Regions from separate parts of the Homo sapiens genome. Here region 2 is linked to region 1. A link means that fine-mapping ties the variant in region 1 to the expression of a gene that starts in the linked region. Tissue or cell type: whole blood. Region 1 holds a variant in brackets; the other region holds the start of a gene. All regions are shown on one strand. Distances are from middle to middle.

Region 1 (8,495 bases):
CACGTTTTACCTATCCACTCTTCCAGAGTGCATCTTACTGCCTGTCCTGCTATACACAGTACTGTATTACACATTTCTGTATGTGCCTTTATGTGAAAGAGTGATAGAACATTCTCTTATAAAGAAATTGAAATTGGAGGTCTAGTGACAATTGTGACTAAGTCAGTGCATTACAGATCCCCTTGGCCTATTACAATTTCAGTCGTACAATTCAGTGATAACACACACAGAATATACTGAAAAGAAACAATGCAAAAGGATTTCATTAAGAGTGCAATTCCAATGGTTATTCTATTGGAACTAAATTGATTCACTTGTTTAGATTTGATTGAGGTGACAGTCACTGTCTTAAAAATGAATATTAATGCATTTGAGTTCTTGTCAACATTTTAGTAGTTGCTCTAGAGATTACAATATATACCCATAGTTTTTCCCAGGCTAGTTAACATTAATAATGTTCCATGTCACATAAAATATAGCAACTTTGCAATTGTATAGGTCTATTTACCTCTCCTCATCCTTTCTACTATAGTTGTCATATGGATTACATATATATATATATATATATATATATATATATATATATATATATATATATATGTTGTGCAGCTCATAAAAACTACAGTTTTTCTTCACAGACTGTGAAAATAGTTTTATATATTTACCATTTCTGGTGTTTTCCATTCCGTCCTAAAGGTCCAAATTTACTTCTGCTATTATTTTCCCTCGGCTGAAAAACATGCATTAGCATTTCTTATATTACAAGTGTACTTATGACAAATGCTGTCAGTTTTTAAAATCTAAAAAAGGATTTTGTCTTTATTGTTATTTATTTATTTATGTATTTTTTTGAGATGGAGTCTCGCTCTGTTGCCCAGGCCAGAGTGCAGTGGTGTGATCTTGGCTCACTGCAAGCTCCGCCTCCCGGGTTCATGCCATTCTGCCTCAGCCTCCCGAGTAGCTGGGACTACAGGTGCCCACCACCACGCCCGGCTAATTTTTTGTATTTTTAGTAGAGACAGGGTTTCACTGTGTTAGCCAGGATAGTCTCTATCTCCTGACCTCGTGATCCGCCTGCCTCGGCCTCCCAAAGTGCTGGGATTACAGGTGTGAGCCACTGCGCCCAGCCCTTGTCTTTATTGTTAAGAGATAGCTTTGCTAGATGAAAATTATTAGTTCATTTTTTTTCTCTTCAAGCACTTTGAGTATGTTATGCCAATGTCTTCTGGCATCCATAATTTAGGATGAGAAGTCATTTGTTAACTAACCATGATCTCCTATGTGTAATGTATTGTTTTCTTCCTGCTACTTTCAGATATATTTTCTCTTTTTGGGTTTCAAATAGTATGACTATTATGTTCTTAGACATGCTTGTTTTTGAATTTATACTGCTTGAGTTTCACGGAGATTGTCATATCTGTACATCTACTATTTTCACTAATTGGGTAACTTTTTGTTTATTATTTATTTGAATATTTTTGCCCCATTTTCTTTGCTTCTTCAGTAAATTGGACTTTTGTTTTTCTCCCACAGTCCTTAAGGCTGTGGTCATTTTTCAATTTTTTTCTTTCTTCTTCAGGTTAGATAATTTCCATGATCCTATCTTCAAGTGTACTGTTTACTTTGTCACCCCCATTTTCCTGCTAAGCCCTTTCTATTATTTTTTAAAAAAATATAGGTACTAAACTTTTCTGAAATTTTCATTAGGTTTTTTTCCATTCCATTTTTCTGCTGAGATTCCTACTTTTTCATTCATTATGAGCATTTTTTTCTTCATGTCATTTATCATAATTGATGATTGTTTTAAAATTCTTTTCTTGTAGTTCTAACACCTCAGTCATCTATAGCTTGAACTCTGTTGTCTTTTATTCTGATAATGAGTGACAACTTCTTATTTCCTCATATGTCAAGTAATTTTGGATTGCATTCTTGTCATTGTAAATATAGGTTGTCTTTAGATTTTGTTATGGTCTCCTGAAGAGCATCACTGTCATTTGCTTGTTTTAATTGGCAATCGATTTAACAAGATTCAAACTTCAAACTCCATTTCATGTGTGGCAATTCAAAATTTCAGTTCAGCTGTGCTGTTTGGAGTCTGACACACACACACACACACACACACACACACACACACTCTCTCTCTTTCTCTCTTTAGCCAGAAATTTGCATAGAGTTTATACATGGAATTTTGGGCCCCTCCTCCTTTCTGTTTTCTTCCCATCTAGAATTCTTCTTTCACTTTTCAGTGGCTACAATTGTCCAGAATAATTCTGGGGTTCCTACCAGAGTTTTAGCCACTGTGAATGCTGTTATTATAATCTCTCCTCTGGCTAAAAGCCATGCAATATTGGAAAATCATCCTTGCCATTCCTTTTTCTGAATGTTGACTCTCCTCTGCCTTTTTTTTTCCTTTTGGTGTCACTCTCCAGTATATTTAAGTAGATTTCTGCTTGTTTATCTTTTCCTTCCTTTCCCCTTTCTCCTCTCTCCATTCCTTCTTTCTTTCTTTCCTCTCCCTTTTCTCCTCTTCTCTGCTCTTTCCTCCCTCACTTCTTGCTTGCTTCCTTCCTTTCATTCTCTCTCCTTTCTTTCTCTGTTTCATTTGTTTCATTCCTTCTTTTCTCCTTCCTTCCCTCTTTCTCGCATTCCCTCTCTTCTCTGTTTCTTTCTTCCTTTCTTTTATTTCACCAGAATTCATCATTGTTATCAGCAGAAGGATAGGGTATGCTAGGAGATTCAAGTCCATGCAAATTTCAGGATGATAACCAATGCTTCTTTGAAATCCAACAAAAACAAATATTTTAATATTCTACACTGAATAATAGCTATGTTCTCATAGTTATAAGATAAACCACGTGTATTAGTCCATTTTCACACTGCTTATAAAGACATACCCAAGACTGGGTAATTTATAAAGAAAAAGGTTTAATGGACTCACAGTTCCACATGGCTGGGGAGGCCTCATAATCATGCCAGAAGACAAAGGAAGAGCAAAGGGACTTCTTATATGGATGTGGATAGACAGAATGAGAGCCAAGTGAAAGCAGAAACCCCTTATAAAATAATCAGATTTCGTGAGACTTATTCACTACCATGAGACTAGTATGGGGGAAACCACCCCCATGTTTCAGTTATCTTCCACTGGGTCCCTCCCATAACACTTGGGAGTTATGCGAGCTACAATTCAAGATGAGATTTGGGTGGGGACACAGCCAAACCATATCATCATGATCTATTTTATATAAAATAGTGTTTTAGTTGGATAAGAAATAATTTCCAATAGCATTTTAAAAACTATACTAGGCTGTTCTTGCATCACTATAAGGGAATACCTGAGACTAGGTAATTTATAAGAAAGGAGCTTTAATTGGCTCACAGTTCTACAGGCTATACAGAAAGCACAGGACCAACATTTGCCTCTGGGCAGTCTCAGAAGCTCACAATCATGGTGGAAGGTGAAAGGGGAACAGGCATTTCACATGGTGGGAGCAGGAGCAATAGAGCAAGGATGGTGGTGGTTGGGGGTGGCAACACACTAAAACAACCAGATCTTAAAAGAACTCACTCAGTATTATGAGGACAGCCCCAAGACATTAGGGATTTACACTCATGGCCTAAATACCTGCACCAGCACCCACCTCCAACATTGGGAATTGCATTTCAACATGAGATTTGGGCAGGGACAAATATCCAGACTATATCATTCCACCCCCCACACCCCAATCTCACATCCTTCTCACATTGCAAAACAATCGTGCCTTCCCAATAGTCTCTCAAAGTCTTAACTAATTGCGGTGTTAACCAAAAGTCCAAAGTCCAAAATGTAATCTGAGACAAGGCAATTCCCTTCCACCTATGAGCCTGTAAAATAAAAACAAGTTATTTACTTCCAAGGTACAAAGGAGGTAACAGGAACCGGGTAAACTTTCTTGTTCCAAAAGGGAGAAATTGGCAAAAAAAAAAAAGGGCCTACAGACCCCATGCTAGTTTGAAACCCAGCAGGGTAGTCATTACATCTTAAAGCCCCAAAATATTCTCCTTTGACTCCTTGTACCACATCCAGGGCACACTGGTGGGAGAGGTGGGCTCCCAAGGCCTTGGGCAGCTCCACTCCTTTGGCTTTACAGAATTCAGACTTCTCCACTGCTCTCACAGGTTGGTGTTGAGTGTCTGTGGCTTTTCCAGGCACAGGGTGTAAGCTGCCAGTAGATCTACAATTCTGGGGTCTGGAAGATGGTGCTCTTCTTTCCACAGCTCCACTAGGCAGTGCCCCAGTGGGGACTCCATGTGGGGTGCTCCAACCCCACATTTCCCCTTGGCACTGCCCTAGTAGAGGTTCTCTATTAGGGCTGTCCCCCTCCAGCAGGCTTCTGCCTGGGCACCCAGGCTTTTTTATATATTCTCTGAAAATCTAGGTGGAGGCCATCAAGCCGCCTTCACTCTTGTACTCTGCATGCCTGAAGGCTTAACACCACAGGGAATCTGCCAAGGCTTATAGCTTGCATTCTCTAACGTGGCAGCCTGACTATACCTGGACCCCTTTGAGCCATGGCTGGAGTTGGAGTGGCCAAGATGTGGGGAGCAGTGTCCTGAGTCTTTGCAGGGTAGCGGGATCCTGAGCCTGCCCCTGCCCCCCAAAAGCATTGTTCCTTCCTAGGCCTCTGGGCCTGTGATGGGAGGGGCTACTGTGAATGTCTCTGAAATGCCTTTGAGTCCTTTTTCCCATTGTCTTGGCTATCAGCATCTGGCTCTTTTTCAGTTATGCAAATCTCTTTAACAAGTGGTTACTCCACAGCCTGCCTGATTTCCTCTCCTGAAAAAGCTTTTTCTTTCTCTGCCACTTGGCCAGTCTGAAAATTTTCAAGCTTTTATGTTCTGCTTTCTGTTTAAATATAAATTCCAAGTTTAAGTCACTTCTTTGCTCCCACATTTGAGTGTAGGCTGTTAAAAGCAGCCAGGTCACATCTTGAATGCTTTGCTGCTTATAAATTTCTTCTGCCAAATACCATAAATCTCACTTTTAAGCTCAAACTTCCACAGATCCTAGGGCATAAACAGAATGTAGCTGAGCTCTTTGCTAAGGCATAATATGCGTGA[C/G]CTTTGCTCCAGTTTCCAGTAAGTTCCTCATTTCTTTTTTTTTTTTAATTATTTTAATTATTTTTTTTTTTTGAGATGGAGTCTCGCCCTTTCGCCCAGGCCAGACTGCAGTGGTGTCATCTTGGCTCACTGCAAACTCCACCTCCCGAGTTCACGCCATTCTCCTGCCTCAGCCTCCCAAGTAGCTGGGACTACAGGCGCCCACCACTGTGCCCGGCTAATTTTTTGTATTTTTATTAGAGATGGGGTTTCACCGTGTTAGCCAGGATGGTCTCAATCTCCTGACCTCATGATCCACCTGCCTCGGCCTCCCAAAGTGCTGGGATTACAGGCATGAGCCACTGTGACTGGCCTAAGTTCCTCATTTCTATCTGAGATCTTATCAGCCTGGATTTCACTGTCCATATCACTATCAGCATTTTGGTCACAACCATTTTACCAGTCTCTAAGAATTTCCAAACGTTCCCTCATTTTCCTGTCTTCTGAGCCTTCCACACTCTTCCAACCTCTACCCATTAACCAGTTCCAAAGCTCCTCCCACATTTTCAGGTTTCTTTATAGCAATGCCCCACTCCTCAATATCAATTTTCTGTTAGGCCGTTCTTGCATTGTTATAAAGGAGTACCTGAGACTGGGCAATTTATAAGAGAAGAGGTTTAATTGACTTACAGTTCTGCAAGCTGTACAGGAGACATAGTGCCAGCATCTGCTTCTGGGGAAGCCTCAGGAAGCTTCCCATCATGGCGGAAGGCAAGCAGGGAGCAAGTGTCTCATATGGTGGCAGCAGGAGCAAGTGAGCAAAAGTAGGGGTGGTGGTGGTTTATTGTGTGCCACAAGAGAGTGGGGGAATTGTTCAAGTGTGTGGCACACATTCAAACAACCAGATCTCACAAAAATTCACCATGATGAGGACAGCACCAAGCCACGAGGGATCTGGCCTTATGGCCCAAACACCTCCCATCAGGCCCCATCTCCAATATGGGGGATACATTTCAACACAAGATTTGGGCAGGGACAAATATCCAAACTATATCAACAACCATTTACTCATTTTACTTTTTTATAGAAAAGATACCAGAGGACAAACAAATTTTTTTGCTATCTAAAGTATTTAATATTCTTATTTGTTTTAAATACCCTTATTTTTAAAGCCTCATTAAAAATATCTCTGAGAAAAAAATTTTGAAAATATGTCTGCCAAGGCTACCACTGTCAGGTCAGCACTAGTTTTCAAGCTGCCATCAACTTTTAATAAACCTTGGTATACTTTTTTGCCCCTAAAATTAGAAAAACAATATTAAGGAGCTGATTTTAGGGTAGAAAAATAACGTAGCTAGTGATCTTTGTAAATAAGTAGAATTTAAGACTTAAGTGAGCAAGAATTTAGCCTGGGCAATGATTGATGGATAAAAGAAATTGTATCATCCTTAATGAGGTCTGATCATGGTTCTTCCAATTTATTAGAAGAGTAGTAATTAAATAATGATAAAATATTAGCACCTACCAGGGTTTCTCTACTCTTAGTCAATTGGGAATGGCCATAGTATCTAAGAACATTGTTATTTATAATGAGGTGATAAAAACAAAATTAATGGCCCTCAAAAGAAAGAATGAGTTGTGATTACAGCCCTTGACATACTAAGAGCTTATTGTGGCAAGGAAAGCGGCATGATAGTTCAGGTAGCATAGATAGGTAGGTCCCCATGTATTTCTGTGTAGATATATATGTGCTGTGCATAAATATAAATATGCATTATATTCTTATATGACACTTTGAGTCTCATCTAAAGTAGATTTTGTATGTGGCAATAAATATATCAGAATATCCTAGGTCCTGATGTAATCAATCATTTTATTGGTAAATGAGCAAATGTATAACTTTGTCCCATGAAAATGTTATTATTATTTATTTATTTATTTTTGAGACAGGTCTCACTCTGTGGCCCAGGCTGGAGTGCAGTGGCATAATCTCAGCTCACTGCAACCTCTGCCTCCGGGGTTCAAACGATTCTCCTGCCTCAGCCTCTTGAGCAGCTGGGATTACAGGCATGCGCCACCACGTCCGGTTAATTTTTGTATTTTTAATAAAGACGGGGTTTCACCATCTTGGCCAGGCTGGTCACAAACTCCTGACCTCAAGTGATCCGCCTGCCTCGGCCTCCCAAAGTGCTGGGATTACAGGCATGAGCCACTGTGCTTGGCCGAAAATGTTACTTTATGAACAAATTACATATATGATTAGCTAATATATCACCAAAGATGGTCTCAATGGCTCTTCCAGACTGTAATCTGAAGACTTCAATAATCAATGGATAAATATGCATGATTTTTATAGTTTAATGAGAAAAATAAACTGACAAATACTATTGTCTTTGATTCAGTGTCACAGCGAGATTTAATCTCTGCCTGCTTTCATTTGCAGATGCCATAGTATACAAGTGTTAAAATTGTGGTGGATCCCAGAAGCGTGCAGACGTGAGTATTGCTTGTCAGTTTTTACTCTGGGTACTGGAGCCTCTTCTGTTTCCTGGTCCATCCAGTCCCCAACTTTCACTCCTCAGCATCCTCTGGTTCTGCACCAGCCTTTGTATTTTAGCTTTCCCCTTTGTCTCCTCTTATTCTTTTGATGAGACTAAAGAGCCTGTTGATGGTTTACTTTTCGGGCCCTTTTGTACTTTGATTTTCCTGATACTCATTAGTGTAGTTGGTCTCAGATCTGCCTCTGCTCCTGAATTTCAGTATCTACGTAAACCCTGCTCAGCCGCTGTTATTCATCGAAATTTTGGCTTTCACCTTCATTGTACTTTTTATGGACTTAGTTTTCCTTCTGGGCAGTTTCTGGTATACACACTAAGCTTGTTCCTCACACCTGGCTTGTTCTTGGCTTCTTAAGTAACTTTGAGAACTTTGCTTTGTCTTTTAAGCTATGCCATCCCTCATTATGATCCTACTGCTGACTCTAATTACATTTTCTGTCTTTGTCTTTATCACCATAACTTCAATACCATGTGCCTCTATTTCGGTATTAGTTTTTGGTATTTGGTATTAACCTAATAAGCCAGATAATTAAAAGTAATAAAAAACAGCAGTCATAATACATATCCTCTGGAATGATATAATCCATGTGCTACCATTTTTTCATGATTAAGTACCCATCTATATTATTGATGTCTCTTGCTTATTATCCCTGATTATATTGTGTCTGGAATTGGTGGGTTCTTGGTCTTGCTGACTTCAGGAATGAAACCGCAGACCCTCGTGGTGAGTCTTACAGTTCTCAAAGAAGGTGTGTCTGGGGTTTTTTCCTTCAGATGTTCAGATGTGTCCAGAGTTCCTTTCTTCTGGTGGGTTCGTGGTCTCCCTGACTTCAGGAGTGAAGCTGCAGATCTTCATGGTGA
Region 2 (6,026 bases), 720 kb before region 1:
GACAAACCCAGGCTCTCCCCGGGTGCCGTGCCTCTGCCTCTAGAATAGAAGCAGAAGCCTGTATTCATGCTTGCAATCCAAGTGGCCCTGCAAACATTCGTCTTCTGCTTGTTTTCTTGAGAAAATCGAAGGAAAGGAATAATGAGTTGGCATTGGCATGAACAGCTTAAGCCTACTGTGTGCTAGTCACTGGTTATGAGAGGAAAATGGTACAATTGTTAGAAATGCAGGTTTCTTAACTCTTAGCTTATTCTAGTGATAAAAATAAATGCTAGGTTTCATTTACCCCAGAATCCTATTTTGATATTTTGCAAATATGAGTTATTTCCATATATTATTTTTCAATGCACGCACCCCCACCCCCATTACGCGCTGAGCCCAGTTACAATGCAATGTCATCAGCCCAAAAGGATGAAGTGCAAGTTATGTTTGTCTACTTGACTGAGAAGTAAATCAGCCTCACATGGAGGCTTCTTTTCCATAAAGTGTGGAACCAAAAAAACTGGCGCCTTTCAGTTGACAAAGGCCAATGACATCAGATTTCCCAGGGCTTCTTCCTTGTCAGGTAAAGTAACAACTACACAGTTTTTCCTCCTCTTTATTTTATTTGAACTGAATACTTGTCAGGTCTGACTAGCGCCTACAATCATAGTTTCTATAACCAAGGCAAGGCAAAATCTTGCAAATCAGTGCAAATCCAGATTTGTTAAACTAATTTCCATTCAGGTCCCTCCCTCCATGCCAAAGGAATATATTAAGCAGTGGAATAGAATCTTATTTCATCTATGCCCCATACCATTGTATGGATGTGAGATTTTATGTTGTGTAGATGTGTGAGAGCAGAAGAAATGCATTAGCAGATATTACACTTACATCTCAAATGGAATTCCATCATTTAAGGGAATAAAATAAAATACCTAATTCAAAATTGGAAATGTCTAACATCATTGCTAACAAAGACAGTTTATTATTCTAAACCAGGATTTTTTTTTTCTGCAAAATTATCTTGGCTTTCTCTTAATACAGCTAAAAGACTAGCATTAAGAATTACTTCATGTACTGCAAAGCCAGCAGAGGGAACACTGCGTACTGATTTAGTAGGGGCCACCAAATATCTGGTATTTGGGGAAAAAAATGTCAGTAATGGAGAACTGATTACAGAGCATATGAAGTTAGGGAATGAGAAGGGAGAAATCTTTTCTCATTATTTGGTATTGAGAGGTCCAACACATTCCAGTGTGCACACACTTAGTTGGTCACAAAGATGACTTTAATAAAAGGGCATTCGTCATATGTTTTCTTACATTCTAAGAGAACTAACCCATTAGAACAGATCTATTTCAGAAGTCTAGGCACTTGTGTAATATATAAATATATATGCAGTAATTATAAAGTCAATGGAAGTTACTGATACCATATTTCATCAAGTCTAAGAGGAAATTTTTCTTTTCATTTCAACTCTTCCTGAAATAAGGAGGCATCCTACATCTAGGGGGATATCACAGTTTCATTGGCAGCTTTCTTCCTTGGTGGAATGTAATATAATGGTGTGTCTTAAAATTTGTTGGATTTGTTGAAATACAGAAAATACATGTAACAAAAGAATGAGGCCAGTGGCTGTGTTTTAGTACACCCTTTAAAAAATCCATGTGTTTTAAGCAGAAACATATATGACTGCTTTAACTTCCACTCTTCCCTATCATATTCGATGATGGAAGCATAAATGACTGAGAAATATAATCAATAATGTTGATACTCAACTTGACTGAATTATCAAACTAGCTACACCCTCAAATCATTAGTTAGTACAAATTCAAAAATAAATATTCTTTTTTATTCTAGTGAAAATATTGATCTTATAGATAATAGCCCTCTTAAAATAATTTTTTTTTGTCAGATTGGTAACATTTAAGGATGTGTTTCTATGCACACCAGAGAAAATGTAGTATATAACACAGCAACACTGTTATGCAAAAAAGGTGCCTGTGTGTTTTTGGTTTGGGTTTTTCTTTTTTTAAGGATTTGTTTCTCCTTTTTTAAAAAAATTATGTAATACAAGTAGCTAATCGTCAAAAATTATTTGCTTTTACCCACAAAAACAGTTTTGCTTGTGGTTGATCCTTACAGATCCAGTCAGATGGCTACATAGGGTGTTCTTTCCAGTAAAATTCTAAGTCTGACAACCTGGGCCTATTGCCAGCCTACATACTTTAAAAGTTTGACAAGATACATAGAAATTTACTACCCAGCACTAGTTTAATCTGAATCAAAAGCCGACTTAATTATTTTGGATTGACTTTACCTAACCACTTATGGTTAGCCTGAAGAATATTAGTTTCCTATTATAGTGTTAAGGAAAGCTGATTTTTACTACAATTCTAATTTTCAGACACTGGAAAACAAGTAATTTCTGTAGCCAACGTTTATTTTGAATACCTTGGCATCCTTTCTTTGCCACATTCTTCTTAGTATTCTTCATGGAGTTCCTTTCTTTTAAAATCAATGGAATGGCAGGGTTGCCACTATTGTCCTTCTATGGTTCACATCAATGATCTGTGATTACTTTTTTTTTTTTTTTGAGATAGTCACACGCTATCACCCACACTGGAGTGCAGTGGCTCAATCTTAGCTCACTGCAACCTCCTGGGTTCAAGCAATTCTCCCGCCTTAGCTTCTCGAGTAGCTGGAATTACAGGCGCATGCATCCCTGCCCAGCTAATTTTTTAATTTTTTAATTTTTAGTAGAGACAGGGTTTCACCATGTTGACCAGGCTGGTCTCGAACTCCTGACCTGAAGTGATCCACCCACCTTAGCCTCCCAAAGTGCTGGGATTACAGGCGTGAGCCACCGCGTCCTGCCTGTTATTACTTTTTTACATAAGTGGCTATTCTGTTTTAGCCTCTTGAACAACATGCAGCTTTTACTAGGAGTGTGTCTGGCATTTGAATTAGAAAGGAAGATATTAGTATTCATTGAGGGCTTACAATACATCAGGTGCTTCATAGTCACAAATTCATTGAACCCTCACAACAACCCTCTATAAAGTAGCTCCTAGTGTTCCCATATAATAGATGAGGAAAACTGAGACTTGGCCACATCCCCATAGTTACAAACCATTAAGAAGGATTAGCAGCCAGGTCTACTATGAATCCGGAGGCCCCATTCTCTTCTGCTACCAGTTATCACCTCCTTCTACAGTTTCTCTTTGCCTTGGTTTTTCAGTTCCCTTCGATTCAAGTAACAAGAGGAAATATATAAGAAGGAAAGGAGGAAGATGGCTTTGGGAGGAGGAGAGGGAAGAGAGTGAAGCAATCTTTAATTTTGAAAACAGGGAAAACAAATATTTAGAAAGTAAAACCGATTTCCATCCTTTACATGCCATTATACATCCTATACAAAACTCTGGAAATCTGCCTATTGAGGTAATTACGGAGCACTACCTAATGTGTTTCAAGGGAAAGCTCCCCTGTTTGGGCTATGCAGGATTTACAGGGAGTTTAAATCATTAAATAACCATAGTTGACCCTTGCTTGGTTAAGAGAGTAAGCAATTATTGCAAAGTCCTCTTCCCTGCCTTCCACAAACAGCACAAAAACGGTTCTGAAGGGATTTACACAATACATCAACATCTGTGCTGTACCTAGAGTTGTTAAAATAATTGTGATGACAGGTGTCTAGGTACCACTTTCTTAATGGTTTTCAATATCCATTGATTTATTGTTTTGTGGCTTTCTCTTCCCCTTTACAGCTTTGGCTTTAAGAAAGAGCTGGGGAACAGATTTTGCACCAGAGGCTGATTCTTTATTCCAATGCTGAAAAGAACTAATAAAAATAATCACTTGGCTTTTAAGCAGAAAGCTTCCATTTACAGTATTTCACCCTTACCCCGCCCCGTTCCAAGCCCCTTGTTATCTAACATAATGGTTAGAATACATTTCCGTCTCTCCCCTTAATAATTTCATGCATTAACATCCTCTTCACACACTATACACACACGCACGCGCGCACACACACGCGCGCGCACACACACAGCAAAAGGAAAAAAGAGGCAGCAGAAATCTCAGCTGTACTTCTAGCCCTTTTAAAAAGTTTGCTCTGTAAATTGGAATGAGGTCAGATTTGGAGCTTCTCATTGCACGCGGAGATTATTATTGCATCGGGTTCCAAGCCAATGGGAAGCCCGGGGGAGGGGTTTGGCATGAGGAAGCGTTGGTTACAGCAGCTGATTGGCTGCAGCCAAGACTGTGAAAGGATAAAGAGGCGCGAGGCGGAATTGGGGTCTGCTCTAAGCTGCAGCAAGAGAAACTGTGTGTGAGGGGAAGAGGCCTGTTTCGCTGTCGGGTCTCTAGTTCTTGCACGCTCTTTAAGAGTCTGCACTGGAGGAACTCCTGCCATTACCAGCTCCCTTCTTGCAGAAGGGAGGGGGAAACATACATTTATTCATGCCAGTCTGTTGCATGCAGGCTTTTTGGCTTCCTACCTTGCAACAAAATAATTGCACCAACTCCTTAGTGCCGATTCCGCCCACAGAGAGTCCTGGAGCCACAGTCTTTTTTGCTTTGCATTGTAGGAGAGGGACTAAGTGCTAGAGACTATGTCGCTTTCCTGAGCTACCGAGAGCGCTCGTGAACTGGAATCAACTGCTTCAGGGAAAAAGAAAAAAAAAAAAAAAAGACTTGCCTGGGAGGCCGCGAGAAACTTGCATTGGAAGCTTCAGCAACCAGCATTCGAGAAACTCCTCTCTACTTTAGCACGGTCTCCAGACTCAGCCGAGAGACAGCAAACTGCAGCGCGGTGAGAGAGCGAGAGAGAGGGAGAGAGAGACTCTCCAGCCTGGGAACTATAACTCCTCTGCGAGAGGCGGAGAACTCCTTCCCCAAATCTTTTGGGGACTTTTCTCTCTTTACCCACCTCCGCCCCTGCGAGGAGTTGAGGGGCCAGTTCGGCCGCCGCGCGCGTCTTCCCGTTCGGCGTGTGCTTGGCCCGGGGAACCGGGAGGGCCCGGCGATCGCGCGGCGGCCGCCGCGAGGGTGTGAGCGCGCGTGGGCGCCCGCCGAGCCGAGGCCATGGTGCAGCAAACCAACAATGCCGAGAACACGGAAGCGCTGCTGGCCGGCGAGAGCTCGGACTCGGGCGCCGGCCTCGAGCTGGGAATCGCCTCCTCCCCCACGCCCGGCTCCACCGCCTCCACGGGCGGCAAGGCCGACGACCCGAGCTGGTGCAAGACCCCGAGTGGGCACATCAAGCGACCCATGAACGCCTTCATGGTGTGGTCGCAGATCGAGCGGCGCAAGATCATGGAGCAGTCGCCCGACATGCACAACGCCGAGATCTCCAAGCGGCTGGGCAAACGCTGGAAGCTGCTCAAAGACAGCGACAAGATCCCTTTCATTCGAGAGGCGGAGCGGCTGCGCCTCAAGCACATGGCTGACTACCCCGACTACAAGTACCGGCCCAGGAAGAAGGTGAAGTCCGGCAACGCCAACTCCAGCTCCTCGGCCGCCGCCTCCTCCAAGCCGGGGGAGAAGGGAGACAAGGTCGGTGGCAGTGGCGGGGGCGGCCATGGGGGCGGCGGCGGCGGCGGGAGCAGCAACGCGGGGGGAGGAGGCGGCGGTGCGAGTGGCGGCGGCGCCAACTCCAAACCGGCGCAGAAAAAGAGCTGCGGCTCCAAAGTGGCGGGCGGCGCGGGCGGTGGGGTTAGCAAACCGCACGCCAAGCTCATCCTGGCAGGCGGCGGCGGCGGCGGGAAAGCAGCGGCTGCCGCCGCCGCCTCCTTCGCCGCCGAACAGGCGGGGGCCGCCGCCCTGCTGCCCCTGGGCGCCGCCGCCGACCACCACTCGCTGTACAAGGCGCGGACTCCCAGCGCCTCGGCCTCCGCCTCCTCGGCAGCCTCGGCCTCCGCAGCGCTCGCGGCCCCGGGCAAGCACCTGGCGGAGAAGAAGGTGAAGCGCGTCTACCTGTTCGGCGGCCTGGGCACGTCGTCGTCGCCCGTGGGCGGCGTGGGCGCGGGAGCCGACCCCAGCGA

Evidence for each region. PIP is the estimated chance that this variant, and not a neighbour inherited with it, causes the effect.
Region 2: SOX4 starts here. The variant in region 1 is fine-mapped to the expression of SOX4 in whole blood (TOPMed, PIP 0.94).

Annotation. Positions count from the first base shown.
Region 1 is chr6:22,309,308-22,317,802 of GRCh38, forward strand. No RefSeq gene overlaps it. Among named protein-coding and RNA genes, the nearest start is that of PRL, 17 kb to the left of the region's middle. RefSeq lists an enhancer at 4,448-5,002. The variant C/G (reference allele first, on the strand shown) is at 5,098.
Region 2 is chr6:21,589,468-21,595,493 of GRCh38, forward strand. SOX4 (SRY-box transcription factor 4) reads left to right here and starts at 4,284. Exons shown (of 1, transcript NM_003107.3): 1 at 4,284-6,026. The coding sequence starts at 5,068. RefSeq lists silencers at 4,895-5,074, 5,845-5,934, 5,985-6,026.